Linked DNA regions of Homo sapiens. The protein of the gene in region 1 interacts with the protein of each later gene in a biochemical or structural test. Each region holds a gene or a part of one and is shown on either strand. Other genes may lie near its edges.

Region 1 (7,706 bases):
CAAAACTCTGTCTCGAAAAAAGAAAAACTTTATCTCAACTCTTTTAGAAGAAGGCACTCCTGCTTAATGGTTAAGAGCAGGGGCCCCCAAGTCTCCCCATGATGGCTCAAATTCTGTCACTTGCTGTTTGACTTTGGTCAGGCTACTTTCCTTCTCTGAGCCTCAGTTTCCCTCTCTGTAAAAGGGAGATGGTAAAAGTAGCCACCTCACAGGGGTGTTAGGATTAACTGAGATAATTCATGTAATGTGCCATGCCCAGCACAACCAAAGTTCAATAAACATTGGCCATCATCAGCTGCCTCATTATTGCCCAGGTCCGAGAGTTAGAAATGAAGGTGTCCGGACAGGCCACAAGGACCTGGACAGGGGTGCAAAGTTTCCTATGAACAGGATGGGCAGTGGGAAAGGCTGGGTAGGGAAGAGGCTGCTCCTTCCTGCTGAAAGAAGTCTGTGACCCTTCCTACCTTCTCCCACTGCTGCCAGGGTGCCCTGGAACAGGGCTGATAGGTTCTCTGGTTCATCTTAGAATAAGGGTTCTAATATTGTGGGTGTCACTGGTGCCTGATGCAAGGTAGGAATGTTATCAGAAAGAAACACACATCCAAATACAACAAATGTGATTTTAAGGTGGGTATGAGGAAGGGGTTCATGGACACCCAAAAACCCATTCATATGCTGAATGCAGACTTAGCCACACAGATGCCCCTGATGTCCTCCTGGCCCACCTCCAGTTCTTTTTTTTGAGATGGAGTCTCGCTCTGTGGCCAGGCTCGAGTGCAGTGGTGCGATCTCAGCTCACTGCAGCCTCCACCTCCTGGGTTCAAGTGATTCTCCTGCCTCACCCTCCCGAGTAGCTGGGACTACAGGTGCGCGCCACCATGCCCAGCTAATTTTTGTATTTTTAGTAGAGACAGGGTTTCATCATGTTGGGCAGGACGGTCTTGATCTCTTGACCTCATGATCCGACCACCTCGGCCTCCCGAAGTGCTGGGTTACAGGCGTAAGCCACTGTGCCCGGCCCCACCTCCAGTTCTGAAGAAGAAAGTGGCTCACACCCTTGGGTTCCCTTCCAGTCACCGACACCGCCGTCCCCAGACAGGGCTGTGAGGCAGGGCTGTAAGGACCTGACACTGAGCACCCACTCTACATTTTCATAAATTATAAGGGTCGTTACCATCAGTGGCTTCCCGTGTGCCAAGTGTTTCACAGGCATTCTCTAAATCTCCTCACTGTTCCTCTCATCTCACCATTTGCAGATGAGAAAACTGAAGGTCCAAGGTGAAGGTTAAACGGCAACAGATACAGATGTAAACCCAATTGGACTCCAACATCCCTTTCATGCAACTGCGGTGCAGCTTATTCTAAATAAACCCAAGATGGAAGGAGTGGGGCCAGGACATCCCTTCTCCTCCAGTCTCCCTCCAGGCGGGCTCTTCCCACTGCTCTTAGAAAATGAGGCCAATTCACAACGTAACTGTGCCACATGCCGCTGTACACTAAAAAACAGTGTTTAGGCCGGTCACAGTGGCTCACGCCTGTAATCCCAACACCTTGGGAGGCCGAGGCAGGCGGACCACGAGACCAGGCGAGACCAGCCTGGCCAATATGGTGAAACTCTGTGTCTACTAAAAATATTAAAAAATAGCTGGGCGCAGTGGCGCGCGCCTGTAGTCTCAGTTACTCGGGAGGCTGAGGCAGGAGAATTCCTTGAACCTGGGAGGCGGAGGTTGCAGTGAGCCGAAATCGTGTCACTGCACTCCAGCCTGGGCAACAGAGGGAGACTCTGTTTCAAAGAAAAAACAAACAAACAAAAAAACAGTGTTTAGCTGAAAGAGAGCAGTCTCCTAATTTACAGAAGGGAAGGCAGATAAACCAAGACGCGCCAGGGACAACAGGGAATCAGGAAGCAGGATTTGAGGCCTAGAACCCAGTTTCCAGATGCCTGTCCATCACCGCACACATCTCGAACTTTCCAGAAGGGAGTGAACTGGAAAAGCGCTCCCTCCCTTCTTTGCCCCCTCCCATCCCCGGCCGCTTTTCGGTTGAGGGGCCGAGCACTCCAGCAAATTTCTCATTGCCCCGCCCCCGAGGGTGTCCCCTGGTCTGGCTGGTCCCCAGATGACCCTTCCGGAGAGGGTCACCGGCTGTCTGACCCCAGGCGCGGGAGCGAAGGGCCCCCGGCACCAGGTCACAAGGGGCGGGCAGGCGGCAGGTCGGATCAGATTAGCGTTTGTGGATTGCGCCCCGGCCCCAGGGAGGGCCGTCTGGCCCCCGCAGGCGGAGGGAGGCGTGGGCGGCCGCGGCTGCCCAGGCGGCAGAATGTGGATTGAGGCGCGGAAGGGGCTCCCTCTCCGCAGCACCCACCTGCTCGCCGCGCTGGGTGCCCAGAACGCGCTGCCAGGTCCTCGAGGGCGATACCCTCAGATCCCTGCCGTCCTTGACACCCACTCCCCTGCAAATCATGGCCCCGAACCCGGGGTTAAGCGAGACACTTGACACTTCCCCGGCGCGGCTGGAGGACCCAAGGCTGCCACAGTTCGCGACTTCGGGACAGCCCATCCCTGATCTCCGGGCCGTGAGCCCGAATCCCCGATGTTACCAGCTCAGCTGCCGATACTCCCGACGTCACACCCCGGGACCCATTCACCCTCACTCGCAGAAAGAAAAAAAAATCGCCAAGACCAAACCATTACAGTAATACCAACGACCGTTGACTGTGGCTGTGCCGGGTACTGCGCTGAGCGTTTCGCGCGCATTGTCATCTCGCGCTTTCCACAGTCTGATAGGCGAGGTGTTATTTATTACACCTATCCTACAGATGCGCAGACCCAGGCTCCGGGATAAGCAACTTCACAAGACTGGAGATTAGAAGCTCCCACCCTTCCGCGCTGCGCTCCGCGCAATCCCAAACCAAAACCCAGAGACAATGGTCCCCGTCGAGGACACACCCTGAACGCTAGAATCCCTTCCCGACTCGGCCGTGGATACGCCCCCAGCCACCAACGCTGCACCCCGAGCCTGCTGACGCGGAGACACCCGCAGAGCTAGGCCCTGGGCTCGGGACGCCCGGGCGGCTGCAAACCCGGCTCGGAGCCGCAGCCCCCAACCCACAGCACTTCCCGAGTCCGCTGGCTGGACGCGGCGGAGGCGCCCCGGGGGTGCCCAGCAGGGCGCGGCACGCGGCACTGCCTACCTTCTGCCTGTAGGCTGCGGATGATGTCTGCCCTCGGCAGCGGGTCGCGGTAGAGGCTCAGCATGTACGCCAGAGGGGATGGCGACGAGGGCTGCCCCCGCGTACGCAGGAGCGCAGTGGCCACCGTCGCAGCACCCGCCTGGAGTAGGGCCCACCAGGCGTGCAGAAGGAAGGGCAGGCAGTGGGCGTGCATGGTGGGCTGGCCAGGCCTGAAAGCAGCACCTCCAGCCCTTATATCCTGGGCCTCAGCAGCCGCCCCGCCCCCACCTTTCCTCCCTCTGGGGAAGCTTTAAGATCATATAACCCCCCTCCGGAGGGTGGGGGGCAGAGAGACCTCCTGCTGGGGATGGGCGAGACCTGAGCCTGGTGCGGAGGAGGCCCGCAAAGCTGGCGGAGGACCTAGTTCCAGGGACGGGATCTAGGGCTCCTGGTTTGCCCGGTCTGGACACCCTGGCACCCTGCTCCTCTAGGTACCAAACGCCTTGATGCTGAGACAGAGCAGGCTTGTCCCGGCAGATTCCCAGGTCAGAACTGCGACTTCCTTACTCGACCTCACCTGGGATCCCTGCCCCATCCTCTCCACTCAGGCTGCAAATGGACCGCAGGCTCCTCAAGAAGCAGGAAGAGAATGCCGAGGGATCCTCGTGGCTCTCAGGCAGACTTTGACACAATCTGGCCGGCGCAGCCTCCCTGGCCACTGTCTAGATGGCCTCGGGGAGCACCCCTGGCCCTACCAAATACTGAAGTGCTTTCCTGGGGAAGACAGAAGGCAGGAGGGACCAGGACGATGACTTCTCCACCTGAAAAGGGAGTGTTCAGCAGAAGCTGGAGCCAGATGGAGCCAACGGGGTGATCCTGGTTCATCAGGCTCTTCCCCGACAGGCAGACATCACCCCAGTGATTTCAGGAGGAAAGGTGTTACCCTTGTTGCCCACATCCCCCAATCCCTGCCTGGTGTGGCAGGGCCACAGAAGACCTGGGTGTCGGCTCAGGGCCACTCACTTTGATCTCTGGGCTCAGCTTTCCTTATTTGCACAAGAGTGATCTTGTCTGGCCTCCTCCCTTCCAGGTGCAAAGTCAAATCAGGGCTGGAATGACTTTTAAAGAAATGTAAATCCCTGCCCCAGTGTCTGGCCCCATCCGTTTTCCTTTACACCTGAGGGCTCTTTCTCTTCTTAGCTCCCCCCACCTACCTAGCCTTGACAAGCACTTAGCTGCTGGCCAACACTTACTGAACACTTACTAAGCGCCAGGCATAGTGCTAAGTGCTCTATACACCTGACTTCTTTCACAGGATGCCTCTAGCTCAAAAGAACCATAGGCTGCTGGCCAGGCACGGTGGCTCACACCTGTAATTTCAGCACTTAGGGAGGATGAGGCTGGCAGATACCTGAGCTCAGGAGTTCAAGACCAGCCTGGTCAACATGGTGAAACCCTGTCTCTACCCAAAAATACAAAAATGAGCCAGGCATTTTTGTGGTGTGCGCCTGTAGTCCCAGCTCCTCTGGAGGCTGAAGTGGGAGGATTGCTTGAGCCTGGGAGGCAAAGGTTGCAATAAGCCAAGATCGGGCCACTGCACTCCAGTCTGGGCAACCGAGTGAGTCCCTGTCTCAAAAAACAAAACAACAACAACAACAACAACAACAAAAGAACCATAGGCTGCGACCTGAGCAGGTTGTTAGAAAATGGAGAAAGGCCCAGCAGGCTCAACTAGGAGCTCCAAGCCTTTGTCCTCTGTCTTAGGGGAGGAGGCTGTCCCACATAGCTGGAGGCCTCATCTAAGATTCAGGAGACCTGGGCTGTCCACCACATGAGCCCTGGACAGTCTGTTAGTTTCCTAAAGCTGGAAATGTCTTGTTCATCCTGCTGTCACACAGTATATACCATCATCATCGTTGGAACCCAAAAAATCTGTGTTAAGTAAATAATTCAGGCCAGGTGTGGTGGTTCATGCCTGTAATCCCAACACATGGGAGGCCAAGGCTGGAGGATAGCTTGAGGCCAGGAGTTTGAGACCAGTCTGGTCAACATAGCAAGACCCTCTTTAAAAAAAAAAAATAAAAACAAGTAAATAATTCAGTGAGGCCAGACGCAGTGGCTCACGCCTGTAATCCTAGCACTTTGGGAGGCTGAGGTGGGAAGATCACCTGAGGTCGGGGGTTTGAGACCAGCTTGACCAACATGGAGAAACCCTGTCTCTACCAAAAATACAAAATTAGCTGGGCGTGGTGGCACATGCCTGTAATCCCAGCTACTCGGGAGGCTGAGGCAGGAGCATCGCTTGAACCCAGGAGGCGGAGGTTGCAGTGGGTCAAGATTGCGCCATTGCACTCCAGCCTGGGCAACAAGAGTGAAACTCCGTCTCAAAAAAATAAAAAAAAAATTCAGTGAATGGCACTATGTCTGAACTTGCCTGAAGATACGCATCACCTTGGTGTTTGTTAAACTGTTGACTCCCCTTTTTTTTTTTTTTTTGAGATGTAGTTTTGCTCTTGTCGCCCAGGCTAGAGTGCAATGGCACGACCTTGGCTCACTGCAACCTCTGCCTCCCCGGTTCAAGCAATTCTTCTGCTTCAGCCTCCCGAGTAGGTGGGATTACAGGTCCCCACCACCATGCCCGGCTAAAATTTGTATTTTTATTAGAGATGGGGTTTTGCTATGCTGCCCAGGCTGGTCTTAAACACCTGACCTCAGGCGATCCACCCGCCTCAGCCTCCCAAAGTGCTGGGATTACAGGCGTGAACCACTGCGCCCGGCCAAACTATTGATTCTCAAGTCCAGACCCAGACCTTCAGATTTAGAATTTGGTGAGAGGGCATGGTCATCTACATATTTCACAAGCACTCCAGTGATACTTTTTTTTTTTTTTTTTTGAGACAGGGTTTCACTTTGTCACCCAGGCTAGAGTGCAGTTACACAATCTCGGTTCATTGCAGCCTCTACCTCCTGGGTTCAAGTGATTCTCCTGCCTCAGTAGCTGTAATTTCTGCCTCAGTAGCTGGAATTACAGGCACATGCCACCACGCCTGGCTAAATTTTTGTACTGTTAGTAGAGACAGGAGTTTCACCATCTTGGTCTCGAACTCCTGACCTCGAGTGATCTGCCCGCCTTGGCCTCCATAAGTGCTGGGATTACAGGCATGAGCCTGGCCCTCCAGTGATTCTGATCAGCCAACTTTGGGACCCACATGGGCTAGGGTTCTTGTTGCAGTTTGTAACCCACCTCTCTACATTGTTTCCTCATCTGCAAAACTTGTCTAGAGATTACTCCTCCCATGTAGACTAAACGAAATGAATGTAAAAATGCTTTACAAGCTCTAAAACCTGATGTCACCGTAGAGGATGATGCATGCGGGTATTATTGTGGGTGGTCCATGGTTGTCATCTGACTTCCCCAGCCTAGAGACTCAGCCTCAGCCCTCTGTGTCAGACCCCTCCCCAGAGGCAGAAGGCACCCTCATCCAGGTCATGCACATATAAATACAACAATGACAGGTTGTGGTTTGTGCTGTGGGAGCCTCTGACCAGGACTCAGGTTCCAAGGATGGCAGCACAGGGAAGGCACAGACAACTAGATGGAGGTGCAGGAGTCAGACGCAGTGAAGCCAATTCCAGAACCCAGGTCTACCAAATCACCATGTGGCCTAGTGTGTAGGTGGTCCCTGTTTAAACATGCTCAGCTCAGCTCAGAGCACCCTCATCCACTGAGACTGGGAAGGAACAAAAAAGATGGCATGCTTTCCATGCTGGACCAGAAGCTTCTTTTTTTTAATTTTTAATTAATTAATTAATTAATTTTTTGAGACGGAGTCTCGCTCTGTCGCCCAGACTAGAGTGCAGTGGTGCCATCTCGGCTCACTGCAAACTCCGCCTCCTGGGTTCACGCCATTCTCCTGCCTCAGTATCCTGAATAGCTGGGACTACAGGCGCCCCCCACCACGCCCGGCTAATTTTTTGTATTTTTCAGTAGAGATGGGGTTTCACCGTGTTAGCCAGGATGGTCTCGATCTCCTGATCTTGTGATCCACCCGCCTTGGCCTCCCAAAGTGCTGGGATTACAGGCATGAGCCACCGCGCCTGGCCGGCGCTCACTGTTTAAGGTAAAATGAATAATAATAACCATAGCTAACATTTATTGAGCACCTAATGCACCAGACATTCTGCTAATAATTGCATTGATTTTATCCTCATCCCCACTTCAGAGACGATGAGAAAACAGAAGCTCAGATAATTTGCCCAAAGCCACAAATTTACAAGTGGAAACAGCCAGTATGTGAAGGGTCAGTCTGCTTGTCACCCAAACCCGTTGCTTCCCCATAGAAGAGGAGTGAAAATGTGCCTTGTACTAAGACTTTTAAAAAAACTCTCAAATAACGTCTTGCCTTTCCCAGGGTCCAACAGCTGCAGACAGCTCATTTCTGATGTGTATTGGCTTAGAGCCCTGTGGAGGCCTGGAATTTCTCTCTGACCCGCAAGAGCAACTGTCTGACAAAGCTCATCCATCTCTGAACTT
Region 2 (7,728 bases), on another chromosome or scaffold:
CTTCACAAACAAGACTGATAAATGCCCAGACTTGGCCCAGACAGCCAACCTACAGTTGATGACAATTATTTACAAGGGGGCGTTATCAAACAAAAATGGTAGCACTCCCTAGAAGATGCAAACTTTTTTCTTTTTCTCTATTTCTTTTAAACTTCCTTGTCACAAAAGCCAACTTACATTAAAATATACTTACTACAAGACAACACAACTAACAAAATATATAATAAACCTTACATAAGTAGAAAATTCTGAGGTATTTCTGGTTTGAGGTGATCTGTGGTCGTGAAGTTTTAATTCTTTTACTTTTCAAAATTTAAACCTTGGAAGCCACATAGCGAAGCATGTGTATATGTGGATGTGTGTGTTTTGTTTGAAAAAAAAAATTTAGCATGTTTCATAAATTAAAAAGAATTCAAATGTTGAAACAGCAGCATTAGGAACATTCACTGACTAGAGCAAGGTTATGGCATAATAGAAAAACAGTTTTTTAGAATATGTACCACTTTAAGGGGTCTGGAGAAAGTCTTGTCCACGAGCCACAGAACGGGGACAGTAATGTCACCACCTGGGGCGGAACCAGAGGTGCAGGACTCTGGGGTCCCCAGCGAGGCAGGCCTTGGCAGACTCCACCCAGGAAATCCTCTTGCCCTATCTGTGCAGGACAATCCCCTGTGGGCATTTCCCTGAACTGCTCCAAGAGGAAACAAAAGTATTTCAACTTTTCGTCCATTAAGGGTATTTACAGCATCGTGTCTTATGAAGAATGTATTCCTAACCTGTGATGATTCTACCCTCACCTAGTTTTAAAATTAGGGCAGAAAAAATGTTTCATCCTATGCCCAAGGCCAAGTTAGTGAAAAGAAACTGGTCAGGGCCAGCAGGTAAGTCAGGGCTGCACCCAATCTCAGACTTTCTCCAAACCCCGCTCTTGCTGTTAATGCTCGGCCTCCACAAGGTCCTTCCCCTCAATTCCTGGTTACCTGAGAAGTAGCCTCCATACTAAAGGATGCTGCTCCGAATGTGCCCGAGTCCAGTGTAGCTCTGTTCCAAACCCTACCCCCAGTACCGTCCTCCCCTTCCAACTCCAGTCCAAACCATTCTCATCCCAGTTTTTTTCTCGATCAGGACAACACCCGTTAGATCCGTGAAAGACACATCTGCTGTTTCTTAAGCTCACTAAAACAAAATAAAAGGAGGGGAGGGAGGGAGGCAGGGGAGAAGGGCAGAGGGCAGAGGAAACTCCTCTTCTGAGGAAGGTATGTTCTTATGTAACAGTCTTCAAAGGTTCCTCTAGGTAGAGTTTGCAGCATTAGGTTTCCTAAGACAGGAGATGGGTTTCTTTGTGTCACAGATTCTGAGACGACAAACAAAGAGAAAGCGGGAAAAACGAATCCCAAAGGACAGGAGGTGGCTGAGGCTCTTCAGCATGGCGCTGGTTCTGCATCCACAGCTCAGCACCTCAACGCCTGCTGACGTGTCCGCTGTTTGTGATACAGTAGAGCAATATGCTGGTAAAAACTGATCCAATCCAAAAAATAATATTAATAATAATAATTATAATAATTATAATAATAATAATAAAAAGTCAAGGTAAAATAGCAGCTGCATTTTATGTGTTTGTTGGTTTTATGGGATTTCCAAAACAAAACACAACTTTTTTTCCTTTTTTCTTCAGATCCACTGAGTCTGGACAGACACTCATGTCCTGGGCTTAGATGCTTGACTCTTTAGGGGGCAGGTCCACATTGGTGACAGAGGTCACCAGGGAAACGAGACAGTCCGAGGTAGTGCCGTTGACCGACCTCCGAATCAGGGACACCCGCTCCTCCACACAGCCCGCGGACAAGCGAGCCTCTGCATCATGGTCCCAGCACTCCTCGATGGTCACACAAAGCTGGGCCAGGCCCTAAGCAGCATAGGGCAGACAGGAAAGACACCTTTGTTAGGACCCTTCAGTGAGGAAAAGCTTTGGGGGACAGTAAACTTGATATTCCCAAGGATCAGGCAGAGCCCACCAGCCCCAACCACAGCAGCAGGTCCACCAGCAGAGGCCTGGGGAAAACTTCAGGAATCAGCATGCCTGCCTTCATGGCAGTCATCTTTCTGAGCTTACTGGCCTCACTCCACAGCCCTAGGAAAGGTTCATTGAACCTCAACATACACAGGAGGGAGAAGGAGACACCAAGGCCCCTACTAGGATAGACACCACTACTTGCCTTGAAGTGCTGATATTCAAACAAAATCTTATTGGAAGCCCAAACCATACAAGTGCCCAAAATGTAGCAGTTCAGTCAAAGTGGGGATCAGGAGAAGGACATCATCCTACCTCACTCCCCATAACCCCTGGAACACATCCCTAGAGTCCAGGGAACGTCGCAGACTTTCTATTTGCCCATTCCCCCTTGATTTCAGCTTACCTGCTACACATGAAGGGTTTTCCCTTCTCCACCCCCCTGCAAAGTTGCCTGAACCAGGCCCCTTACCGGGTGTTTCAACCAGTGATCTTTAATGGTGGGCCTCATCTTCTTGTGCACCACCACCTCCTGCAGCTCCTCCAACGAAGGGTGCTGGCCAATCTCTTCCTCAAAGGGCAGCATGTACTCATCCACGGGTCCTAGGAGAAAGAGAGAGCCTGGCAGGATCACTCTAAGGTCCCACTGCTCCCTATCACTCAATCTAGGATGCCCAGGGCTGCCATCCTACTTACCGTCTGCAGCCTTGCAGCGAGACACAAGCTCCCACAGCACCAACCCCATGGCATACATGTCAATGCGCAGGAAGGCATCTCTCTGGAAGTTGATGGCTCCCTCGAGCACCTCAGGAGCCATGTACCGTCTCGTGCCTACCTATGTGAGGACAGAGGAGGGCAGGATTTACAGTGACTGGCCATACACACACAGCTGGGACATGGGAGTTACAGCCTCTGTGCACCAGATGGCGGGCAAGACAGAGCAATTCAGACAGGTTATCAATGATAGCAAACCTCGATTCACCACATTCACAACAGTTACAAGAGGTCACAGCATCAATTATACTTGGCTAATAATTTTTAAATACTATATCCTGGAGATAATAGTAATCTAAAATGGAATTGTTACCAAATTAATACAAGGAACTACAGATGATATGTATCTGACTGAGATTAAGACCAAAAACAAAGAGGGAAGGAGAACACTTAAAAAATAATAACAGTGATTGTTTTAGGAATGATTTCCTAAGTTTAATTTTTAGTTACTTTTTCCAGGTTCTTTGTTTGGATCCTTAGTACATTTCTTTGTTTTGTCTTAGGAATTAAAACTAAAAAAGTGAGAGAAAGACTAAGATTGCAAGGACTAGTGGTCAAAACCCCAGTGGGGAATCTCTACATTTCCCAGCTGACTGTCCTACGGAAGCTAAACTACACTGCCTTCCTGGTCTTGGTTTCTCCACTGGTCAAACAAGAGCATTGCTCTAAGTTCTCAGACAGCTCTGAACGCATGCAGTCACCCTCATCCCTGCACCTCCCCAGCTGAGCACAAAAAGGGCAAAGTATCTACCCTGGGTCTGTCCCTCTCTTCCTGCCCTGTGAGGCCTGTTACCTGTCCGTGGGTGTCCCCTGGAGGTTTCCCTGGCTCAAATCGAACAGCCAAGCCAAAGTCAGCCAGCACGGCTGTGAGGTCGCTCTTCAGCAATACATTCTTACTTTTAAAGTCCCTGTGGAAACAAGTGGGCAGAGATAAAGCTTAACATCATGATCCAACTCCCACCTTGGTTCCCAAGATACTAGAGTCTGTGCCCTAGAGTCAGGCCCCAGACCAGGCCATCCCACCCTACCTGGGGTGCAGAGGTGAAGCAGCACAAGCAGGCAGCTGCAGGCGCCGACATGGGTGTGAGAATCCCTCAGTGCACTTCAGATGGAAGGCTTCCCCCAGGGTTGGCAAAGCAACACCTACCCTAATGGCTGGGCAGACCCTGTCCCAGTCCCCACACTATCAAAGGCCAGCCCATATATTCTCAGAGGGGTTGTGGACAGGCACACTGGCCTGGGATGCAAGTTTTCTGAGAAGAATTTACAGCATTTGGAATGTGAATGAGAATAGGAATTTAATATTAGCTTTCCTAGGATCCTGCAGAGACCCCTTAGGGTCTCAAGCTCACCATGAAGGCCGGCTGGAGCAAGGGTGCTATTGCATGCACCCAGCTCCACCTCTAACTAAGCAAAGCTACTTGTGGTACTCAGTTTCCCCAGTGCCTGTCTCAGCCTTGTGAGGATTCGACTGAGTGGTAAGTGCAAATGTTTAGGGCCACACCTGGCATACTTACTAGGTATTCCTATTAAGTTGAGCCATATAGCAGAGACAACATTCAACCTTTTGACCTATAAAAACGGCAATTTCATACAGTCTACCTTCTATGTCATTACTGTTATTACCATCAGGGACCCTTCAGCTTTGAACGCTGGAATTTGAGGTTCATTCCCCTCCCTCACAGTCACAGAACCAGACTCAACTAGCTACAAGACCTTGGCTAAGTCATTCAACTTCTCTGTACTACTGTTCCTCCATCTGCAAGACAGAGCTGAGAAATACAGTACTTGTCTCAATGGGCGGTAATGAAGGTCAAATGAATTGATACTTCTCAAGTGTTTAGAGCACTGCCTGCCATTTAGTAAGCATGACAGTGATGAGCTCATCCAGAGTTTCTTAAAGGGTGGTTCGAGGACCCCAGAAGATCTCTAAGACTGTTCCAAGGGAATCTATAAAGTCAAAATTATTTTCATTTATTTGCTTTTATAAGGCTCATTCTCTTAGGAGCATAGAGTTTTCCCGAGGCTACATGAGATGTGATGTCCTCACTCTGACAGCGAATGGGATGTGTGGGTGTGCTCAAATACAGCAAATATCAATAGTCATAATCCACTTACACAAAAGTCATTTTAAGAGTATAAAGGGATCCTAAACTAGAAAATTTGAGAACTACTGAGCCAACTCTCCAACCAAAGTAATGGAGTCAGCACTTCATGTGGCCATTAGAGGGCACCAAAAACCAGCTTGGGAGGCCATGCCATCCCCAGGACACAGTGGGAAGGCCAGGTTTTGTGCCCAGCTGCCTCGGACACACAGCAAGCAGGGTAAGTATGTTTAGGAAGTTGAGACATCTCCAGACACTGCTCTCGCCCACCAACCCTTCCCACAGCTCCAGGTCAAGTGCAGGAAAGGCACCTGCTGACCCAGGTACCTGTGGGCAATAGACGGCTTGTGGCCCTCGCCACGGCACCAGGGCACATCCTCATGCAGGTATGAGAGGCCTCGTGACATCGTCTCTGCTACATGACACAGTTCGTTCCATGTGATGATGTTCCCCTTGAGGTAATCCGTGAGGGAGCCCTGAGAGAAGACAGCACAGAACTTGAGCACAGATTCTGGGTACAGGACAGGACCCAGCCCAGCCCTGGCAGAGAAGTCTCAGTGGGCCAATGGCTAGGCTGCTCTCCTGGAAGGCTACTACAATCGATATGGAAGATGGATGAGGCCAGGAGGCAGGGAGGGCTAGGGGTGGGAATCATGGAGTCACTACTCTTATCATAAAAACTTATCCCAGGGTGAGAGGTTCCTATCATAGGGGAACCAATGTCCACACCTATGGCAGGAGTAACCCCATAGTGGATAGTGCTACCGGGGCAGAGTACTTCATGGTGGACACCTCCACAGGGAAGGGGTCATCATATTATGGAGAGCCACCAAGGGGACATTCCATCTCCTCTCAGAGTCCATTCTGATGGGTGTGGCTCACCTTGTCATGGAAGGCCGTGATGAGCCACAGCTCTACTTCGAGGTTGGAGCCTCGCTTCTCGGCAGCAATGAACTGTAGCAGGTTCTCGTGCTTCATGCCAGGTGTGCTGAAGATCTCCCGTTCACTCTGCCACGACTGCTTGTCCTGAGGCCGGGGGCGAGGGGTTGGGGGGACAAGTGGCTGGCTTAGCCCTGCTGCAGTCACATTGCCCTACAGCAGAACAACCATTCCCCATTCCCCACCCTCAAGCCTCCCAGCCCAATCCCCACCCCCCAGCCTCCCAGCTTCAGCATTTGTAAGGGGACCAGGAGAAGACCTGTATTAAGCTAGGCCCCAGAGCATGAGGCCAACAGTGATCCCTGAGATCACTTAAGGCTAGCACTTCGATTTACAAATGGGGCCACTAAGGTCCATGCATGGGGTGTGAGTGACCCCGTATCACCCAACAAATGAGGCAGAGCCAGACCTGGTGTCCAGGGCCGCTGGAAAGAACCCAATGTCAAAAACAAAACCCTGGTAACCGGGGCAAATCAAGGTTTTGCAAAGCCCTACCCTAGTCCTATGATAAAATTCCATAGTTGCATGAAATCTACAGACCAGCCAAGTGTAACATGAGTAACTAGGCCCAGTAAGGCTCACTTTTCTCTCATACCACAATATTATTTGGGGTTTGGATTGCCCCAGGTCAGGAGAGCCTCCAGTTCAAGCTACAGTGGAGGCAGAGGACCTGGATGGAGCCCCTCAAACACTCACCTGGAGTGGGAAGATCTTGACAGCTACAAAGTCATTCATGAGCTGGGCCTTCCAGACACAGCCAAAGCGCCCCCGAGCCTTGATCTCCAGCAGCTGCAGTGGCTTCAGGCCCACCAGAGGGGATGGTGGTGGAGGCCCAGGGTCCTGGGGGAGAGCAAGGCTTAAAAAGGTCTGGCCTGTCCTCCCCACCTCTATCCTGCCCTGCCCCAAGCCAGCACTGTCTCACCTCATGGATGTCCACATGACCGTAGGGGGGCTTGCGATGCCGGTACATCCAAAAGGCCAGCAGGACGATGAGGGAAAGGCCCCCGATGGGCAGCAGTGAGTAGGCCAGCACCGTGAGCAGGGTGGGGGCTGTCGGGGGTGGCTCGTACGTGACTGGGGGACACACAGAGCCCTGTGTCAAACAGTCTGCCCACCCTCACACTTCCAGAGCCAGACTACAGGGCCCTGTAGCCACACCCCACCCAACTGAGGAGCCAAGCGCTCCAAGCCAAAGAAGCCCAGGTCGGCTGACTCAAGGCCCCACTTCCACACTGCCCCCTTACCTTCCGGGCCCCCAGCCTCTGGCAAATGAGTGAAGCGTTCGTTGCAGAAGTTGCCTTCACAGCAGCAGAAGTACACCTGGGGGTTCTCCTCAGTGGCCACACACTCCTGCCTGGAGGCACAGAATTTTCCATATACCCCTCACCTGGGGGATGCAAGACTCCCCCAGGCCTGCCCTGCCAACCCCTCCTCACAGACAGAGCACCTCATGGGCAACACCAGGGGGACGGTGTGAACTCACCTCCCCTACAGGAGACCCAAAGCCAAGGAAGAACAGCCAGGGGTTGACACTGAGACCCCTCCTCAGGGCTAAGGTAGGACAAATAGGGTGTGGAAGGGCGTGGGGCCATGGCTACCATCTCAAGAGCCCCTTCTTGGTCCTTTATCTCCCACTCAGACATCCTGAGACCCAAATGGCCCAGTGGGCAGTATAAGCGCAGGTGGGTCCAAGAGGAAAGGAGGGCAAGTCTTGGGGTACCTATCGTAGCAGTTGAAGTCATCTAGCCAGCAGCCCTTCTTCACGAGCTCGATGGTGCCAGAGCTGTTGCGCCAGGAGGCGTAGCAGTGCAGCCGCTTGTCCTGCTCGCCTTCGCAGCGCTCCAGGCCGCTCTGGTTGGTGCGCTCCAGCTCCCAGTTGGCGTTGTAGTAGATGCACTC
Region 3 (7,728 bases), on another chromosome or scaffold:
GAGCTTTAAACTTTTGTTACAAGAATAGTCAACTTCCACCAATCTATAAGACAAGTTTGTTTTTTTTTTTTTTTAAAGACTAGTTGAAAATCTAAGGTTCTAGAAAATATTTTAAAAGTTAAAATATCCTGACTATAGAGTTGTTATATCATGGGACTAGCAGAACACAAAATAACAACATAAAATAACAACTAATATGTAGAATATTCCTCTAGATTATTGTTGTCCTTTAGGTCAAGATAAGAGAAGTAAAAGAACCACTTACATTTCACAATGATGAAACCAATTACCAAAAACATAATTTCCTACTTCATTAATGGTACTTTCACACTGACTCTAAAAGTAGAAAAATTGAGGAAAACTAGCAATTACATTTTGGTGATAATTACCCTGCAAGTTAGTGACAGATCAAAGATCAGATAAATTTCCTGACTCTGGTTTTGTCACAAGCAAGACTGATTAAAACTTAAAAAAATGGTTCACGTAATCAAAATGAATTGTAAATGGTAAATGAAAATTACTAAGCATTACCTACACTAAAATAAATGTTTGTAAGAGTAATTACAGCACAAGAAATAAGGAACAAAAGGGTGGTTTATATGAGTAGAGTTTTAGGTTAAAAAGTTGCCATCTTTGCTCTTTTATTAAAATAAACTACCTTTTAAAACATTTTTATTCAAGAATGATTTTTATTTTCAGGTTAAATATTAATCAACTATAAGATGTCTCGAAAAATAACTCTGAGGGATTTATAGCCAGCATTAGGTAGGCAGGCCAACTCAGACTTTACTAAAGTAAAACGTTAAGTAGTTTTACCTTTTCATGAAATGCTGTGATCAGCCAAAGATCCACATCAACACTGGTGCCTCGTTTTTCTGCACCAATGAACTGTAATATGTTCTCATGCTTCATTCCAGGCAAACTGTAGACTTCGTATTCATTTTGCCATGACTGTTTGTCCTAGAGTCAAAAAGAAAGAATAGTAAGAACACAAGGAATACAGGTTTAATAAACCATGCATAAGAGATTACTCAAATAAGTTCCAAAGTAAAACAAAACAAAACAAAAAAGTCTTAAAAAATTTTTTGTTCTGTTTTGTAATAAGAAAAAGCTCTGACAATAGGTTAACAAATTTATACTAAATGCCTGCCCTTTTCATTCCCTCAAAACGTACTTTTCTGTGTTTCTAGTTTACAAACACAGAAGGTGATCGGAAATGCTGCATTCTGTGTCTTACAATGGCAACACGTAAGTTACTGCAAGTATTACACTGTAATTTCATCATGGTGTGAAGTTACTTGTGGTACTATTCAGAATAATCTCCTTGAAAGATGAAATTCCGGCAGAATGACTTCCTCTAAATAGAAAACTTCTTCTTTTCAAAAACTAACATAATATCAAACATCCTTCAAAAAATGTTTAGCATACCCTACAAGGTCTATGAGAAAGCAAGGGGCAAAGATATGCAATGCAATAATTTAAGACACCATATATTCACTTGTGCCTGCAAGCAATCCATGTCTACTAAGTATCTACTTATAAAAGATTAGCTTCTTTTCACTACTAAAAGACAATAATAGTAAGAGGCACTATGGCATAATGGTTAGAAACCCTTAGAAACTCTCTGCATCCAAACTGTCCAAACTTAAATCCTGGCTCTCCCACTAACCTCTGGCAAGTTACATAATCCTTCAGTGTCCTCATTAAGTAGAAAAGGCATTGTAGTGTCTGTCTTATAGAATTGTTGTATTATATGTTGCATTTTATGTACATGTGGGTAATATACGTACACATATTAGTGAGTACTCATATATGTAAAACACCCCTACCTGACCCAATAAAAGCATACAATAAAATGTTAGCTACTGTTGTTGCTGTTGTCGGGCTTGTTAATATCATCCAAATGCCTTTCTCTGAGCTTTATGCTTCCTTACACATGGAAATAATTTCTTCCCTTATCTTATTTATGAATCTTGGCACAACAGAATACACTTTCTCTCTGAAAACTAAACTGTGGTTTACAGCTACCAAAAAAAAATGTAATACAGTTCATAAACTCTATGTAAACAGTTTATAGACTGAACAGAGGAGGTAAGATTGAACAGAGGAGGTAAAAAGGTTAAAATCTAGGTATATTAAGACAAAGAAACTGCTTATATGATAACTTTGGAAAAAGAAACATCCACTCTCTAAGTATGGTGGTAGAGCCTGCAACACCAAATCCAGCCAAGACGTCAGTACCAAGGGTATCATGAGCTGCCAGGGTATATAAGCAAGAGATGGGGAAGACAGAATCATCATAAATCTATACCACCAACGGAACAAAACAAAACACAAGAATAGCTCAGAGGTACATTAGATCAGAGTTTTATGAGAAGTCCAGCCAACCTTAAAAACAATTCAACAGTAAACCAATTATTTGAAGTCTCGATTGCCTCTGAAAATGCATCAAACAAAAACTGAAATAATTAAACACTCAAAGTAGAATGAAAGTAAGTCAAGTCTGGTGATATACCTCTAAATACCAATTCTAAAACAAAGTATACTGCTCTTTTGTTTTTTTGTTTGCTTTCTCTGACAACGTAGGGGGATATTAAAATTTAACCACTCAATTAGACTTGTTTATTGGAATCTTTATCTTTATTTAACATTTCTATTAGAATTTTCACTGGCAAAAGATCTACTATGCATTCATTTAATTCCACCACTCCAGACAAACATAATGATTGTTATATTAACAATTCCATTTCTCAGATGCAAAGGCAGGCATTAAAAGAGCTAACTGCTTTCCCCAGTATCACAAAGAACCACCTTGGTACATATGGCTTCTGTTTTGAGACTATTTCTGAGTTATGATGACCTAGCCATAAAACATGTATGTAAGATGACAAAACTGCAATAAACATACCTGTATTGGAAATATTTTGACAGCCACATATTCGTTAAGCAACTGGGCTTTCCAGACACAACCAAATCTTCCCCTTGCTTTCACTTCTAATAACTGCAGTGGTTTCAAACCTAGTAATGGAGAAGGTGGGGGTGGTCCTGGGTCCTACAGATAAATAATAATAATACTATAAATAAGCAGAACATGACACACACCAACTCTGAAAATGAGAAAAAAAGTGAGTATACTGAAAAGTCAACTGACAGAAACAGTAAACACATATGAATGACATTAACTTCAATGTTGCCATAATTAGATTACTAATTATCTATAGTGATCACAAGGCAGGCAACCTGAATTCAGAGTTTCATAATAATGTTCAGCATTATTGCTATATATGTACCACAGGAGAGAAGATCTAAAATCTTTCTGATCAGTCTCAGTAATATTCCCCACTAAGATTTTCTGTGAACTACGAAATACTCCTAACAATATTTCATTTGTTTCATCCAGTGTGTACTTCGAGGAGGATGATTTGAAAAGTGCCAGAAACAGCAAATTATGACTATATATCAGCAAAAACCTCTCCTGAAGATCTATTACTTTCTCCAGTGACTGTTTAAATTTTTTCTTCATTAATCTCAGAGATACCGGCAGTCATTCTTAAACACATTGCAGATAGGTATATCAAATACAAAGCACATACAGGAAATATGTAAGTAAATATTTCTTTAACCAAACTGGTTCATTCTAATTTTAAACATATTAACAATTCATCCCTTTGATCTGAGATAAAAAATCATTTGTGTTCTGGAACTGACTGACTGGCAAAGAAGTACGAATAAAAATCCAGAAAAGAAGTGGTCATCATAGTAGATAACAGGATATGGTAAATGAAAGAAACGTGCACTGCTATAGTTTTTTAAAAATAGAGCAAACATAATATATAAATAGGAATACAGCATCTACAAATCACAAGGAAATCCTATCAAAGCAGAATGCAACCCTCCATTGAAAGCATTCTCTCAGTTCCCTATCTGCAACTAAAGCAAGATGCAGGAAGCCTTTTGGAAAGCTTCCAGAGAAAAGCAACAGAAGGGTTTGGAGGGCTGCATAATGAGTATTTTGAGGAGGAACTAAAATTTCTGTGGCAAAAGCAACTGATATGATGACACTGGGTGGCACCTCAGACACTTGGAAATGGTATGTGATCCCAGATCAATGCATCCTCTCTGCCTTTCTTTTTCTCTCTTCTTCTAATGCCTCAAAGACAGTTAGTGCTTTCTTTAGGCATCACTCAGCTCACTGGTGCCACTCAGGAGTTTTAAAAGTTTACTGTGTACTAGAAAGAACCTCAGCAACAGAAACATTGCAAGGTGTTATGTAGGAAAAACATGCAATTTCTTCTTCTAAATGAAACCATCTTTATAAAATGGCTTTAGAATTCCTGTTTAAACAGTAAGATAAAACAAAAGACTTCTTGTGACTCATTTCAAACTCAGACTTTTTTTTTTTTTTTTTTTTTTTTTTTTTGTCTACAAGTTGCTTGTCCTTCCCACATTCAAAACATGAAAGAACGTTTCTGTTTAGCAGAGTGACGGGTCAAGGAGGTCAGATATAAATCTTATAGGAAGGATGGGCTCTCAAGTGTGATTCTCAGTGGAGGGGACACAAGAACCTCTAGAGAGTTTTTATTAAAAACTACACCCTCCCTCCCTCATTCTTCAAGTGATCACCTCTATCCGAGAAATTCTACTGATCAGAGCAGACTGCTTATATGAATGTGGAGACAAGAGAAAAAAAGCTTGAAAACAACTCTTCTACAGGAAAGGAAACCATTCAGTCCTCAAGGGCAAAGAGTTATTGTATAACTGCATAAAGACATATTTAAACTAAATAGAAAATGTTAGAAAGGTAGAGAGATAGGTTTCAAACCAGAGGGGATGCCAAAAACTAAAAACTAAAGTATACAGAAAATGGCTGAAAGCTGAAGAGGAAAAATAACTAGGTAGAGGGAATACAGTGCTAAATTACAATATTAAGATTTTTAATAGCTTTTATGTACACTGGTAATGTCTCTATAGTTAATCTACACATTACCCATTCTCTGTTCTAAAGGACATCAACAACATGAATATGATTCAGTCTGTAAGATATAGATTATTTAATCCACAATTAATATGTCAGCAATTCAAACTATGATTTTAGTATAACATTAATTTTAGAAAAAATAATTTTTAATATCTACATTAAAAAAAAAAGTTCATTAAATGTTTTCCAAATGCATATACTTCAAGTTCCCATACATTCCCAAGGCTCTGTTTAACAAGTTTCTAAGCTATCATTATTTCAGAAAGAAATAATCTTAGATCACCCTCCTACTATAATTTATTCAATATTGTATAGTAACAGCCAGAACAAATATTGTTGTCAAAATTACTTAAAAGGTAAAAGCTTCAATTAGAAAGAATACTGGTCAATTTCGAAAGGGTGACAAAAAGGTCTACAAGGTCTTCCTGTAGAATCTCAAAACCTTTAGCAATGACATGAGCTTTTCAAAAATGGAATTTTAAATAATATTCTTTAATACACAAAGGATTGGGTTCAAAAATGATAACTGTAGGACAGATTATAAAATCTCTAATCCTTTTTAAATAAAAAATTACTAGAATGAAACTTTAAATTCATCTGTAAGTTTCACTCATCCTATAATAGTAGAAATGATTTTCAATTAATTGGCATCATTATAGTAATTTATTCACAAAAAAATCAATACTTGATTCTAAAAATAAAAATGTATACCTTTAAAATATATGAGCCCCTGGGAAGACAAATGTAGACATAAATTTCAAAATGACAAGCAATTTCTGATGTCATACACAAAATATGGCTTTACCTGGCTACATAGAGAAACCAATGGGGAGCTGAGAGGCACCTAGAAGGATTTCAGAATTCCTAAAAACTTCCCTAAATTTCCAGTTCTCTTACAACATCCATGCTATTTTGCAAAACTAAAAAGATATGCATTCAAACACAGTTCTGATTACATTTCTTCTTTACTCATTTATATGTAAAAATTATGGTATCAGAAGACATCAGCTTCAGAACACATACTGAAATGATAACCTGGTAAAAAGTAATCTCCTGCCCCCAAACCACTACCCAATATCATTACTATAACCAACAGTGGAATAAATTATTAGAGGTGGGAAGCTACAAAGTCATCTCTGATCATTTTACTTATTCTGAGTTCTCCATTTGAAGGGTGAATTTTAATCTAATTAAACGCTTAAACCTCAGATAGCAAAATATCATCAAAAGTTATACTCCTGTAGCTAGTTCATTTGCTAAAGATGCCAAAGATGAAGCTATCTAAAAATATCTATTTCACATTTAAATACAATGGGCTGGATTAGAAAATCGACCCCTGTTAAAAATGAACACATGCTGACATTTAAGCTAATGACATATAAAAATTAACCAATACAAGGTTTTTGAGGCGAATGGAGCCGTTAAGGTGTTAACTTCTAATCAAGTAAAACGGTTTTTTCTACATCCTACCTTAAATAAATATAAATACTCTCAGTCTCTTAAAACTAAAAGCCATTCCTAAGTCAAATCAATCACATTTTAATTATAAAAGCTGGGTGAGGGAGAACCCTTTATGACATAAATATATAAATTATAGAGGATGCACAGTAAAGCAGTAACAACAACAAAAATCTAAGAACAAAATGTTTAGTATGCATCCACAGAAAGTTCCACAACCATAAAACAAACATCAATGCATCTTACCTCTATCATTATATGAAAGGCGTGCTTGTGAAGAAAAAACACAGGCAAAAGAAATTACGATTCATATCCAGAATGAAATGAAAAATGACACATCAGTTACAAAAGTGAAGGAAAGAGAATAATGGTTTAGTATTTTAAAAGTTGGCAATGATCCAAAGTTTTACATTGTTTAAATAAAGATAGGGAACACTTTCCTTACAAACAGAGGAAAGTAATATCAAAAAGAACCCCTTAGATATGAGAGATAGGTGGTAAACAAATTCTTGACTCCAGTTTAATCCCAAGTTAACTGATCCAATGACTTCATGCCTGCAAACAAACTAAATCAAGTCTTAAATAATGATTATTTATTTTTCTAAGAGCCTCTAGAGTCTAAATTATAAAACAAGGAATTTACAAATTGGAATTGCCTTCTCGACACTAGAGGGCAGTATTGCCTTTAGCAAAAACGAGCTAGCAGCCCTAACAAATTTATATATAGCTAGAAATCAGTTTCTCAGACTTTCTGATAGTTGTCTTAAGAACCTCTAGAATTTCCTATTTCCTGAACTGCCTCACTTCCCTTTCATGGAAGACAGAATCATAATGGTGAGACAGAAAAATGTTTCTGGTGGCTATGTGCGTGCACCATAATACACCATGGCAAGAAACTAAGACAGGAAAACAAGATCATCAGAATTAAGTAAAACATAGTGACAGAATATTATCAAACCTACTTGCCCAGCACATCAAGGTGAAGCAGTTAAGCAGAGGTGGCCCTGGGAACAAGTAATCACACATCTCACATTCTAAAGACACTCAGACACTGATAGAGAACAGGATTTTCATTTTTCCAGTCATCCCAAAATAGGTAAGGGTCTAAATTTAAAATTAAAAGAAATATGATCACCAGTGGTAGGGAAGGCTGAGAATTCCTCCAATGGATGATGGCTATGTTCCCCAGTTTCCAATATTTCTATAGAGAACAATAGCACTGACAAAACAGAATGGACAACTCATTTATCTGTACCAGTTGCTTAACTAGTTTTCTTCCTTCTAGATTTTCT
Region 4 (7,728 bases), on another chromosome or scaffold:
ACGAGTTGTTCTGTTGAGCACAAATTGGGGCTGACTCGCACCTGAGCCCAGTTGAGACAAAGGTGGCAAGAACTGGTCAGGAAGAAAAATCTTCCTTGCAGGGAAGAGCACTGCAGACATGTGCAAAGGTGAGGTTTGGGGCCCAGCAAGTAACTTGGATGGCTGTGGGTGGAGAGGGAGGCAGAGGCCAGATTATGAGGGGCCTTTTTGAGAGGATTGTATTCCATTCTGAAGATAGTGGGTAGTAATTAAAATTTCATTCATTAATTCTATAACATTTATTGACTGCTGTGGGCCAGACCTCTGCTGGCTGCTTGGACCATCACACATAAGAGCAAGACACAGTCCCTCCCCTCACAGAGCTCCCAGGAAGAAGGGGACAGACACGTGGACAGGTAGTGGCACCCGGAGCACAGAGAGGATGCTGTGAGTGGCTGGTTCACATTGTGGAAGGGTCTCTCTAGCAGTTGTGACATGACTTGCTCCTGTGGCATGGTGCAATTTAGAAGTTAGTGTCTACAAAGCCTACAGAAGATGCTATTTGTTTTTCATTCCTGAAACAACAGCAGACTGCTCATTCCTCACATTGCCATGGGAAGTTGTAATGGTCTCTGCTGCCCCCAAGCTGAGGAGCCTTAGACTCCAATACAAGGGAGGAAGGGGAAGAGCAAGATTTTTATTCCCACTGAGTAAGCTATTCCTTTTTAAAACTATCACCTTTTGATAAAATTTAAATCTTATATGTTTTAAAAGGATCAAATCATGTCTTCTCTTTGAACTTGTTAGCAGGGTCCTCAGGACTTTGGGGCTGGTTAGAGTGCGAGAAGCAGTGTGTTGGGTGGGCCCCTTGTTTGTGATAAGAGAAGCCAAGATGTGTGTGTTTCCAGGATCCATCCCTTTATTGATTCTGGCAGCTTGTGTGAGTAGGGATCTGGCTTTCAAAACCCACCTTAAGGCCAGGGAAGGGAAACAATCAGACTCCCTCGTTCTTGCCTTTTTAACATGGGGTATATATAGTATGGTGCCCTGGAATCAGCGCCAGCCTGGAATTTTGGAGATTTCAACTCAATTTCCAGTCTTCCAATTGACAACGGCATGGCTTAATTCGATTCCTGGCTTTGGTGTTTCTTTTTCTCCCTCCTCCTGCTCTCCTCCTTCCTGCTGTCCCTAGTGTAAAAGAGAAAATAAAGTGTATGCACTCTACCTTCCATTGCTCCTCTGAAGGATGAGATGCCTTTCTGGGAATACTTGGAAGTGGTCTATTCATGCACTGAAAAGCATTTTTTGGCCTGGAATCCAATAATCCATAAAGGAGATCTTTCCTACTCACAGAGATATCATAGCCTGGTAAGAACAACAGACTGAAAAGAAACATTACAGATGAGACAGGTGCTGTGTTTGGGCTGTGTTCAGAGGGTCGCTGGGACACAGGAGGCCCTCCAAGGCTTTCCTGTTTGGTGGTGGTAGATCCAGCTCATTGTGGTTCTCCCGTGCAGATGAGCAAGTCTTGGTCAGGATCAAAGCAGTGCTGCACACAAAGCTGGTGATAGCTGTTACCTTCCCCAGGCATATGCCTCCTCTTTCCTGAGTACCTCACATTTCAAATTTGACATAATGTTCAGAATCCTACAGTTCACCTAAAGGAAATCAGGAGCAGTCCTAAGAAAGAAATGGTGTTCCCCTGTCCTTACTGAGGTCCCAAACTGGTAGACCACTATAAATGAAAGGATGCTAGATGGGGCTTCAGGGGGCATGGAGGTGGGAAATGTGAATTCAGGAGTCTAACCTGATTTTGTGTTGTATACACTCATCCTTACCAACCTTCACTGTTTTGCTGATAGTTACACTTTTTCTGGGACTCATCTGTGGTTCTCTGCAGATAATGGCACCTGGACACAGCTGTGGCTTGTTTCTGACTATCATGAGCACGGGTCCCTGTTTGATTATCTGAACCGGTACACAGTGACAATTGAGGGGATGATTAAGCTGGCCTTGTCTGCTGCTAGTGGGCTGGCACACCTGCACATGGAGATCGTGGGCACCCAAGGTGAGTGGACTAGCGCAGGAGCGGCGAAGTGGTGTAGGCATGAAAGGTCCGCAGTGTCCTGATTTAGTTCCTAGAATTCCTTTTTACTGAGGAAGTTGGGGCTGGACCTCAGGAACTCTAGTTTAATTTAAAGGAAAGGAGGTTTGAGCTTCACTTAAGTGAGGTATCTACAGGGTGTTCCCTTCACCTCTGTCTTGATAGAACTCCCTCAGGAACCCTATAATATCAATATTCAGCTACTTGTCAATCAGTGGCTTGACATAGTCATTTGTTACGAAGGAGTAATCATCTTAGAATCCCACAATAGACATGAGAAAAAATGGAACTAAAAAGATAAACCAGTGTACTGGGAACATCAGTTTAGTGATTTCCATGTTCATTGATGGGGACAGCTGGCTTAAAGGCCACTTGGTGGATTAGATTCTGGGCCTTACTAATCTGGGAAGGTTTTCCTGGAGGAAGAAGACCTGAAGCTCTGCTACTTGTTGATTATCATGTCGGCTCTTTGGGAGATCCTGGATCTTGTCACAATGGCAGGTGTGATCCCTGATGCCTGGTTGACCAGGGCCACAATGGAAAATCACCCGTGAAAGTTGGATCCTATTCCTATAGCCTGTGCGGTGCCAGTTCTCATCATCGGGCCTGTTTCCTTCTGAGAACTAGGCATTGCAGCAACTTCCCTTCAGTCCCTCAGCACTTCTGTACCTGAGCATATTTGCTCAGGGAAGGCGAGTAGTAGTAGTAAATATTAATACAAATATTAGCTAAATACACATGTCCTTCTATGGTCGTAACTTAGCTACATGAATGCATTTAATCCTCACAACAGTCCCATGAAATAAGTAGTCATTCTGATTTTATGGATGAGAAGACTGAGGTACAGAGGGCTAAAGTCACTTTTCCAGGGTCACTGGATTAGCAGGAGGCAAAGCCAGGACTCAAACCTATACAGTCTGGCTGCATAGTCTATGCTTTTAACATTTATATCATCTCTTTGTAAAGATCCCTGTTTTTTTCTCTGCCAGGGAAGCCTGGAATTGCTCATCGAGACTTAAAGTCAAAGAACATTCTGGTGAAGAAAAATGGCATGTGTGCCATAGCAGACCTGGGCCTGGCTGTCCGTCATGATGCAGTCACTGACACCATTGACATTGCCCCGAATCAGAGGGTGGGGACCAAACGGTAGGAGGGCCTGGGACTCTGCCCTTGCTAAGCAGCTTCTACTGAGTATCCCATCTGTGCCGTTTCCCATATGCGCAGGAGAAGGAGGTGTTGAAAAAGGAGGCGAGGACCTTGCTCTCAGCCCACTGAAAGTTGAATTGAACATGCACTCCCCACAATGGAAAGTTGCATCACTGCATCTAACAGATACAAGTGCTGAGAGCACAGCTCCATAAACTGTATGCACATTGGTGTTGGTGGTATTAAGGTCGGAGGGTAGAGAAGGACAATCTAGAGCAGGATTTAGAAGGATAGCAGGCAACAGGTGTGGCTCGGGAAAGAGGGAAAACACTGTCATCTCCTGTGCAGAGAGCTGTGAAGGAGGCAGGGAGCATGTGCTTAGGGACTGGAGACCAGATTTGCCAAACTATAGCAAAGGTAACCCAGGATAGAGATTTGGGGCACCCTTCAAGATTATGGGCCTGCTTCCCACTTCATGCAGAAGTGAGGTAAGAAGTAAGGAGCTGTGATTGCAAATTGACTTCATGAGTTGGAAATGGGACTGCCTTTTAATAGAGTGGAAGAGGTGGAAATCTGCTGAATCTAAATGAATTTAATTAAGATTATCCCCTGATTTATTGTGGGGGCTGGGGTGGCTGGAATCATAGTAATTACTCATAATTACTACTCAGAGTCATTAAGGGTGCCGCTGACCACCTCTAGAATTAATTTTGACATATCTATAGTCAGGTAAGATAACAAAAGCAGTTCGGAATGAAACTTAAGCTCAACCCATCACTGTGACTACATTCAATAAAGTGAAGGACCCTGGTGTCAACCAAATATTAGGTACTGTTACTGCCCCTGTGACCCACATTACAAGTACTTCTGCCAAGAAGTCAAAACATGCTTCAAATAAACAAATCTTTACTCTCTCTTTGTTTTTTTGATATGGAGTTTCGCTCTTGTTGCCCAAGCTGGAGTGCAATGGCACAGTCATGGCTCACTGCAGCCTCCGCCTCCCGGGTTCAAGTGATTCTCCTGCCTCAGCCTCCCGAGTAGCTGGGATTACAGGCGCCTGCCACCATGCCTGGCTAATTTTTTGTATTTGTAATAGAGATGGGGTTTCGCGATGTTGGCCAGGCTGGTCTCCAACTCCTGCCCTCAGGTGATCCGCCCACCTTGGCCTCCCAAAGTGCTGGGATTACAGGCGTGAGCCACCGCACCTGGCCAAATAAACAAATCTTGATGGTTAAAAATAGAGATACACATCAGAGTAGCCTGGTATTGCCAAATCTGTGCTGAAGTATTTAGAATCAAATTTAAAACATGGGAGTTTGCAATGAAGAGATGTGTACACTTCTTCTGCCCCAAGGGACTTTATCAGGGTGATACTCTTCCACATTCAGAGGGCTCCTGAATCAATACTTTGATTTAAAGAGAGCAGTCATCATTTTCTGTGCGTGACCATGTTTGTTTTGCTATTGCAGATACATGGCCCCTGAAGTACTTGATGAAACCATTAATATGAAACACTTTGACTCCTTTAAATGTGCTGATATTTATGCCCTCGGGCTTGTATATTGGGAGATTGCTCGAAGATGCAATTCTGGAGGTACCTTTCTTTTTTGCCTTTGCTCCTACCTCCCATTCCAGGATGCTGGATCACCCAAAGCTGTTTTACTGCCCCCTTTCTTTTTACAACCTGTTGGATGCCTGTTGCCAGAGCCTGAATCATCGTTTAAGGTTGCCATCAAAGGTGTGGAGGTAGCTGTGCTTAGGGTGCGTTTATTCTTCAGGGATCAGTTTGTTGAATAGCGTTGTGTGTTATGGTAACCATTCTGAAGGCTCGTTTGGCTTTATAAACAAACAAACATTGTTTTATTAGTCCGTGGCGGGGAGTGCCCCGGTGCGCATAGCACGGGATTCATGCAGTGGTCTCCTTCACATCAGAAGCAGTATATTCTAACGCGGTGGCTCCCAAGCCACATTCATGGGAAACCCTGCTGTTTCATTGTTAAAATAATAGTGCTAATTTCTAAATTTATAAAAGTGCATAGATTTTTCTTAAAAGTGAGTTTTTTCTCCCATAGTTAAAAATCGTTGGCATTTGCAGCTGCTTATTCATGACAGAATCCAGTAAGAAATAGTATCAGATTTAGCAGAAACACTTTTTATTGTCAACTTAGTATATCAGTATTTTATGATAATTTCCATATATTCTGCCACATGATCAAGTTCCAGGACCTCTAGAGCCCTACTCTCAGCCATTTATCTGTGATATAAGAGATTCCAGGGCAGTGAAAGTGATTGAAAAAAAGAACTGGTGGTGCTCACTTCGCCAGCACATATACTAAAATTGGAACAATACAGAGAAGGTTAGCATGGCCCCTGCACAAGGATGACATGCAAATTCCTGAAGCGTTCCATATTTTTTAAAGACCTAGTATTTGATAGCACCACAGGGTGACTATAGTCAATAATATAATTGTACATTTTAAAATAACTGAAAGAATATAATTAGATTGTTTGTAACACAGTGTAAATGCTTGAAGGGATGGATATCCCATTTTCCCTGATGTGATTATTATGCATTGCATGCCTGTATCAAAACATCTCATGTACCCCATAAGTATATACATCTACTGTGTTCCCACAAAAATTAAAAATTAAAAAAATCTAATCTACAAAAAATATGACAAGTCTTCCAGCAGAACTGTTTTGTATATTAATACCCTTTTCCAGCTTCCATTTATGACATGTTTGGTAAAATCCAAATTATGGAAATAGTGCCCAGGTAGTATTCATGGAATTGTACCTCTTAAATTTTGATCAGTATATGCAGTAAAACAGACTAAGAGGCCAGGCGCAGTGGCTCACGCTTGTAATCCCCAGCACTTTGGGAGGCCAAGGCAGGCGGATCACGAGGTCAAGAGATCGAGACCATCCTGGCCAACATGGTGAAACCCTGTCTCTACTAAAAATACAAAAATTAGCAGGGCATGGTGGTGCACGCCTGTAGTCCCAGCTACTTGGGAGGCTGAGGCAGGAGAACGCTTGAACCCTGGAGGCGGAGTTTGCAGTGAGCCAAGATCGAGCCACTGCATTGCAGCCTTGCGACAGAGCGAGACTCCATCTCAAAGAAAAAACAAACAAACTAAGAAAAATCTGGTCACACAGGTCTTAAACTGTGAATAAGTTTATTTCTTCTTATGACATCCAGAAATTGAGGCTAAATATATAATAATGCTAACATTTATTCACCACTTGCTATGTATAAGCTCATTTAATCTTTACTACTACAAGTAAATAATAAGTAGGTGCTATTATCATCGCCATTTTACAAATGAAGAAAATGAGTCACAGAGAAGTTAGGAAATTTGTCTAAGGTCACATAACTATTTTAGTAAACAAGGGTTCAGACTCGGACAGGCTGAGGCCAGGGCTTAAGCCTGTAACTACCCCTTAGATAATTACCAAGTCCAATTCTCTATTTAAAAATATTTCCCAGGCTGGGCACTGTGTCACACCTGTAATCCCAGCACTTTGAGAGGCCAGGGTGGGCTGATTACCTGAGGCCAGGAGTTTGAGACCAGCTTGGGCTACATGGTGAAACTCTATCTTTACAAAAATAAAAAAATTAGCCAGACATAAAGGCCAGGCATGGTGGCTCACGCCTGTAATCCCAGCACTTTGGGAGGCCAAGGTGGGCGGATCACCTGGGAGTTCGAGACCAGCCTGGCCAATGTGAAGCCCTATCTCTATTAAAAATACAAAAATTAGCCGGGTGTAGTGGCGGGCGCCTGTAATCTCAGCTACTCAGGAGGTTGAGGTAGGAGAGACTCCATCTCTACTTAAAAGAAAAAAAATTGTCTCATTAGCTCAAGACAGCAGGGTTTTTTTGTTTTGTTTTGTTTTTCTTTTTCTGGAAAAGGGCTTGAGAAAAATTAATTGGCTTTTTATTTTTATTTTTTTGAGAGAGGGTTTCTCTTTGTCACCCAGGCTGTATTGCCATGGCACAATCTTAGCTCACTGCAACCTCCGCCTCCTGGGTTCAAGCCAGTCTCCTGCCTCAGCCTCCCGAGTAGCTGGGATTACAGGTGCCCACCACCACTGCGGGCTGATTTTTCTGTTTTTAGTAGTGATGGGGCTTCATTGTGTTGGCCAGGCTGGTCTCGAACTCCTGACCTCAGGTGGTCCACCTGCCTTAGCCTCCCAAAGTGCTAGGATTATAAGCGTGAGCCACTGTGCCTGGCCTAAATTGGCTTTTTAAAACTATCTTTTTATTATGGAAAATCTTTCTAAGTTTGTAGTTCTTAAAGATGAGGACTTAAAAAAATGCAGTGCTATTACCACACTTTAAAAAATGAACATTAGGCCGGGCGCGGTGGCTCATGCCTGTAATCTCAGCACTTTTGGAGGCCGAGGTGGGCTGATCACAAGGTCAGGAGTTTGCAACCAGTCTGGCCAACATAGTGAAACCCCGTCTGTACTAAAAATACAAAAAAATTGCCAGGTAT

The links.
Region 2: the proteins of NODAL (region 1) and ACVR2B form a complex in vitro, tested with the Homo sapiens proteins (one study listed by BioGRID).
Region 3: the proteins of NODAL (region 1) and ACVR2A form a complex in vitro, tested with the Homo sapiens proteins (one study listed by BioGRID).
Region 4: the proteins of NODAL (region 1) and ACVR1B form a complex in vitro, tested with the Homo sapiens proteins (one study listed by BioGRID).

The regions. Positions count from the first base shown.
Region 1 is NC_000010.11:70,438,282-70,445,987, forward strand, and holds the start of NODAL (nodal homolog isoform 1 preproprotein), read right to left. Parts: upstream 3,401-7,706; 5' UTR 3,387-3,400; coding exon 3,194-3,386; intron 1-3,193. UniProt on the Homo sapiens protein: Essential for mesoderm formation and axial patterning during embryonic development.
Region 2 is NC_000003.12:38,477,316-38,485,043, reverse strand, and holds part of ACVR2B (activin receptor type-2B precursor), read right to left. Parts: coding exon 7,550-7,728; intron 7,184-7,549; coding exon 7,074-7,183; intron 6,904-7,073; coding exon 6,752-6,903; intron 6,670-6,751; coding exon 6,526-6,669; intron 5,917-6,525; coding exon 5,773-5,916; intron 5,367-5,772; coding exon 5,218-5,366; intron 3,694-5,217; coding exon 3,579-3,693; intron 2,847-3,578; coding exon 2,708-2,846; intron 2,615-2,707; coding exon 2,484-2,614; intron 1,907-2,483; coding exon 1,712-1,906; 3' UTR 1-1,711. UniProt on the Homo sapiens protein: Transmembrane serine/threonine kinase activin type-2 receptor forming an activin receptor complex with activin type-1 serine/threonine kinase receptors (ACVR1, ACVR1B or ACVR1c).
Region 3 is NC_000002.12:147,910,515-147,918,242, reverse strand, and holds part of ACVR2A (activin receptor type-2A isoform 1 precursor), read right to left. Parts: intron 3,053-7,728; coding exon 2,909-3,052; intron 961-2,908; coding exon 817-960; intron 1-816. UniProt on the Homo sapiens protein: On ligand binding, forms a receptor complex consisting of two type II and two type I transmembrane serine/threonine kinases.
Region 4 is NC_000012.12:51,982,120-51,989,847, forward strand, and holds part of ACVR1B (activin receptor type-1B isoform a precursor), read left to right. Parts: intron 1-566; coding exon of another isoform or gene 567-689; intron 690-1,224; coding exon of another isoform or gene 1,225-1,229; exon of another isoform or gene 1,230-1,873; intron 1,874-1,879; coding exon 1,880-2,047; intron 2,048-3,072; coding exon 3,073-3,229; intron 3,230-4,698; coding exon 4,699-4,823; intron 4,824-7,728. UniProt on the Homo sapiens protein: Transmembrane serine/threonine kinase activin type-1 receptor forming an activin receptor complex with activin receptor type-2 (ACVR2A or ACVR2B).